2 separate regions of the Homo sapiens genome follow, and region 1 is linked to region 2. Evidence: fine-mapped QTL for protein levels in blood plasma. Region 2 holds a variant in brackets. A gene starts in the other region. All regions are shown on their forward strands.

Region 1 (2,912 bases), not on the chromosome of region 2:
ATCCATTAAAGGAGCTGAAAGAGGTGCTAGAGGAGTTTACATGGCAGGAGTCCAGGAAGCTCTGCAACAGTCCAAAATGAGGTTGGGACACATGATACACTTGTTCATCCCTATTCTCTATCTTCACACATATGCATATCAGTCCTTCCGTGGCTGCTATATTCTTGTGGTGAGATCCAAACCAGCTGCAGTCTTGCTCTCCCAGTGCATGCTCATTCTGCAAATCAGAGCTTCAATGTATTGCTATGAAAAATTCTGACTGGTCTTGAAATCCATTGACACCATCACAAGAAAATTCAACATGACATCGTCATGAACAGAAATGGATGATGGCTTCATATTCTTAAATATAATTTCCAACTATGGTGAAATTTTGAATGGTTGTAAAAACTGTTTTTGCATTTTTATACCTCACTTATTTTGTTAATGGAGACTATCTAGAGTTTGATGTAATTCTCATCAAAAAGTCCATCAGTAATTATTTCAAATATAAAACTGATATCAAAAAATTGAGTTAATGAAAATAAACTCAAATTTTTCATAAAAATATGAAATTATATTATACGGAACTTTATGTACATGGAAAGTGAATAATTTCTATTATTTTTCTATTTGATATTTATCATATTTATGTAATTAAAAACATAATTAAATTTTAAACTAAATTAAACTGCGCTCCAGGAAGACATCATTTTCTCTGAACCATGACTCTGAAAATTTGGAAAGCACCGTACAAGAGGGATTTTCAGTGATTCACAAGAGTGCAAGATTCTGCAAAGTACTTTCAAAACTAAGCGTGAGATCTTTGCTACTGCCTTTATGGCATGCAAATCACTCAGCCTCAACTCAGTTCCTTCCTCCAATGTAAAAATACTACAAGAACAACATCTCACGCTTCCATCAAATGGGACCATGTGTGATATTTTACACTGGACTACACAATAGGCTGGAAAAGTGATCCGCAGAGAGGCTCATTGCTCTAAGTTCACTCCCTGTACCAACTGTCTTGCACAAAGCTGCCACCCGGGTGTCTTCTTCCAACATTTCCCCTAGTTGGACTTCAAAGTTTCCTTCTTGCAGCCTGTGCGGGGACCAAGAGGCCGGTCTAGAGTAGCCGCCCAGCATCCAGATCCGACATCCTTTTCCCTTTCCTCAGGAAGACTTGGATGCGCGCCAGCCCAGCCCGGGTCTCCAGGTTCAGCTGCGGAAGCTTCCCACATGGTGCCCGTCGCTTGGGATGCGGCTATCCTTGTGCCTTCTCTGCAGGTGTCCCGGCAGGTAGAGGAGGAGACCGGTGGCTGGTGTTCCTGCAGGGCGGGGCTGGGGCTCCTCGATGTCCTTGCGCTTGCCCTGCAAGTTCTGCGCCCCAGGCCCCGGCAGGGACGGAAACAGGCCGGGAAGCAGTGACACCTGGGGCAGTCAGTCATCCAGGAGCCGCCGCCACCCGCCCCACCCCCAGTCTCCGCGGGAGGTGTTTGTCTTCGCCTATGCTCCCGGCTCTTTCTCTTTCACTTTTCTTTTCGCCAGGGGTTGGGACTCCGGGTGGCAGGCGCCCGGGGGAATCCCAGCTGACTCGCTCACTGCCTTCGAAGTCCGGCGCCCCCCGGGAGGGAACTGGGTGGCCGCACCCTCCCGGCTGCGGTGGCTGTCGCCCCCCACCCTGCAGCCAGGACTCGATGGAGGTACAGAGCTCGGCTTCTTTGCCTTGGGAGGGGAGTGGTGGTGGTTGAAAGGGCGATGGAATTTTCCCCGAAAGCCTACGCCCAGGGCCCCTCCCAGCTCCAGCGTTACCCTCCGGTCTATCCTACTGGCCGAGCTGCCCCGCCTTCTCATGGGGAAAACTTAGCCGCAACTTCAATTTTTGGTTTTTCCTTTAATGACACTTCTGAGGCTCTCCTAGCCATCCTCCCGCTTCCGGAGGAGCGCAGATCGCAGGTCCCTTTGCCCCTGGCGTGCGACTCCCTACTGCGCTGCGCTCTTACGGCGTTCCAGGCTGCTGGCTAGCGCAAGGCGGGCCGGGCACCCCGCGCTCCGCTGGGAGGGTGAGGGACGCGCGTCTGGCGGCCCCAGCCAAGCTGCGGGTTTCTGAGAAGACGCTGTCCCGCAGCCCTGAGGGCTGAGTTCTGCACCCAGTCAAGCTCAGGAAGGCCAAGAAAAGGTACCGCAGCTCCCCACTTCCTAACTGCTCCCGTCCCAAACTCATTGTGGGCCGGTGCAGATGTCTGTGCGTGCGCGTCTATCCCTACCTTTGCAAAATCAAATTATCGCCCTCTTCTTTGCTTGCACACGTCTTCTGGGAGAGAAATTTGCAGGAATGGTCAGTGCTTGGCAGTCAGGCCTGGGTCTGTATTGGTTCCAACTCTGCGCCAGCCAGTTATCTCTTAGAGAAGCGATAGTGTATCTAGAATGTCGAAGGAACTTGGAAAAAATACGAGCGAATTTCACTGAAATAAAATCATTATTCAAGGTGGCTTTTAAATGAAAATCCAGCCAATTTTTTCAAGTGTTATTAAGACCGCATGTAGCAAGGGTATATAGTTCATTTGACTTTATGTAATTCCATGCATTAAAAACTATGTTGACTTCAAAGTATGTCTAAACCAAACTAATTCTTAAATGATGCTTACAACAGATTCTTAAATAGGATGAGTCAGCAATTTCAAAACTGGAAGTAAAGTGGTGGTCACCAGCTAGTTTCCATTATATATTTTTAAACTACTATCTAATATTATGATACTGGTGGTGGCCAACTAAGTGGACGTCATCCTTATCTTGTCAGTGTGGTGAAAGAGGCCATATTAGCTAGGCTGAATTTTTGCTCAGGTATTACAGAATAAACTGGTGATTATGCATCCTGCCATGTAGAGGTTATAAGGTGAACCATTCTACTGAAAGCATCAAGATACAATACA
Region 2 (2,912 bases):
TCAATAGAAGGGAGTGTCTGGGGTTAAAATAAGGGGTTCTTATTATGCAGATGAAATTCAGGTTCTATTATGCAGGCTTCAAAGAGAATAGATTGTAAATGTTTTTATCAGACTTAAAGAGACAGTTTTGCAGGCCCATTTCAAAATATGTCGAAGCAATATATTTTGGGATAAAATATTTTTATTTATTTATTTTTTTTTTTTTTGAGACAGAGTCTCACTCTGTTGCCCAGGCTGGAGTGCAGTGGCACAAGCTTGGCTCACTGCAACCTCCAACTCCTGGGTTCAAGCAATTCTCCTGTCTCAGCCTCCCAAGTAGCTGGGATTACAGACATGCACCACCACGCCTGGCTAATTTTTTGTATTTTTAGTAGAGATGGAGTTTCACCATGTTGGTCAAGCTGGTCTCGAACTCCTAACCTCAGGTGATCCACATGCCTCAGCCTCCCAAAGTGCTGGGATTACAGACATGAGCCACCACGCTCGGCCTTTTTATTTATTTTGTGACTGCAATCTGTCATGTTGGTATCTTATTGCTACAGAGTCTGCTCTCTCCGTCTCAAGGTCTCTGTTTTAATGTTAATGCTGGTCAGTTGTGCCTGAATTTCAACGAGAGGAAGGTATAATGTGGCCTGTCCCACCACCCATTCCCATGATGGTCTGAAATAATGTTTCAGGTTTATTTTGGAATGCCCTTGGCCAAGAGGAGGAATCCATTCAGGTGGTTGGGGGGCTTAGAATTTTATTTTTGGTTTACATCCATTAATGCCATAAGAATACTGGCAGAAATGGTAAAAATCAATGTTTTCAGAACTTTAACAAAAAGACTATAACACGCTAGGCATTGGCTCATGCCTGTAATCCCAGCACTTTGGGAGGCCAAGGCAGGTAGATCACCTGAGGTCAGGAATTGAAGACCAGACTGGGCAACATGGTAAAACCCCATTTCTACTACAAATACAAAAAATTAGCTGGGCATGGTGGCACATGCCTGTAATTCCAGCTACTCGGGAGACTGAGGCAGGAGAATCACTTGAACCTGGGAGGCAGAGATTGCAGTGAGCTGAGATTGTACCACTACACTCTAGCCTGGGCAACAGAGTGAGACTCCATCACAAAAAACAAAACAAAACAAAAAAAACAGACATAAGTAGAATACCAAATTCCAGCATGAAAGCATGAGGAGCTCCATGACCTATTCTCCAGTAAGACTTGTGAAAACTATAAAGACCCAACTACTTAAAACCTCTAGAAACGAGCTGGTCACAGTGGCTCATACCTATAATCCCACCACTTTGGAAGGCTCAGGTGGAAGAATTGCTTGAGCCGAGGAATTTGAGACCAGCCAGGACAATATGGGGAGACCCC[G/A]TCTCTACAGATAAATTAAAAAATAACTGGGCATGGTAGCATGCACCTATGGTCCCAGCTACTCAAGAGGCTGAGGCAGGAGGATTGCCTGAGCCTAGGAGGTCAAGGCTGCAGATCCTGTCTCAAAAACAAACAAACAAACAAACAAAAACTCTAGAAATTGTCATAAGGGCAACAGGAAAATGCAGAAACACTTATTCAATAAAATCTATGAATATTCTGTAGGAAAAGCAAGCATCTCAGGTATCTGAACCAAGACTGCCACCACTCTCCTCCCTATCAGATCAGCAAGGCAGAGAATCTGCTGCAGATTGCTGCTGCCAGACAGGGCTCCCTCTCCCTGCAGCTCTTAGTCAGAAGGCTTTATCTGGCCAGGTGCAGTGGCTCACACCTGTAATCCCAGCACTTTGGGAGGCCGAGGCGGGTGGATCATGAGGTCAAGAGTTTGAGACCAGCCTGGCCAATATGGTGTGCTGAGACCAGCTCGGTGGGGGAGACCCTAATCCAGCAGCGCTAGAGGAATTAAAGACACACACACAGAAATATAGAGGTGTGAAGTGGGAAATCAGGGGTCTCACAGCCTTCAGAGCTGAGAGGCCCGAACAGAGATTTACCCACGTATTTATTAACAGCAAGCCAGTCATTAGCATTGTTTCTATAGATATTAAATTAACTAAAAGTATCCCTTATGGAAAACAAAGAGATGGGCCGAATTAAAGGAATAGGTTGGGCTAGTTAACTGCAGCAGGAGCATGTCCTTAAGGCACAGATTGCTCATGCTATTGTTTGTGGTTTAGGAATGCCTTTAAGCGGTTTTCTGCCCTGGGCGGGCCAGGTGTTCCTTGCCCTCATTCCCGTAAACCCACAACCTTCCAGTGCAGGCGTTAGGGCCATTATGAACATGTCACAGTGCTGCAGAGATTTTGTTTATGGCCAGTTTTGGGGCCAGTTTATGGCCAGATTTTGGGGGGCTTGTTCCCAACAATGGTGAAACCCCGTCTCTACTAAAAATATGAAAATTAGCCGGGCCTGGTTGCGCACTCCTGTAGTCCCAGCTACCCAGGAGGCTGAGGCAGAAGAATAGCTTGAACCCGGGAGGCGGAGGGTGCAGTCAGATGAGATCCTGCCACTGCACTCCAGCCTGGGCGACAGAGTGAGACTCCGTCTCAAAATAAAAAATAAAAATAAAAAAGAAGGCTTTATCTTTGGGATGAGGAAAAGGTCAGCGTTTCTCATCCTGCCTCCAGCTACCTGTTGTTTAATCTAAGATAGTAGGCAAGTACAGCTGAGAGTAGCAGTTTCTCTTCCGCTATTCAGTCCCAACTTGCAGGACAAAGGTGCTACCTTAGGCATGGTGCACTGAGGAGACTGGAGCCCTGGTCACCCTCGTCCCAGTACTTTGCATTTCAAGAGAGGCCAGTGGAGAGGAATTTGGCTTCTCCCACACTTCCCCACCCACTGAGTGCTTAGGTCCTAGCGTCCAGGTGTCACTCAGCAAGAACTTGCCATTGTCTTTACCCTGTTCTCTGAGATTTTGCCAGGGG

Direction of the effects. Alleles are on the strand shown, and positions count from the first base shown. The strength of an association depends on the size of the effect and on how common the allele is.
As copies of G replace A in region 2, the plasma level of the protein whose gene starts at base 1,517 in region 1 goes up (weak association).

What was found. PIP is the chance, under the fine-mapping model, that this variant and not a neighbour inherited with it causes the effect. Protein levels are from antibody-based Olink assays in UK Biobank. Linkage for the fine-mapping came from a reference panel and not from the study's own genotypes, which makes the PIPs less certain.
Region 1: IL15 starts here. The variant in region 2 is fine-mapped to the plasma level of the IL15 protein (UK Biobank, PIP 0.99).

Annotation. Positions count from the first base shown.
Region 1 is chr4:141,635,067-141,637,978 of GRCh38, forward strand. IL15 (interleukin 15) reads left to right here and starts at 1,517. Exons shown (of 8, transcript NM_000585.5): 1 at 1,517-1,682. RefSeq lists an enhancer at 1,430-1,519.
Region 2 is chr3:128,660,570-128,663,481 of GRCh38, forward strand. No RefSeq gene overlaps it. Among named protein-coding and RNA genes, the nearest start is that of RPN1, 11 kb to the left of the region's middle. The variant G/A (reference allele first, on the strand shown) is at 1,369.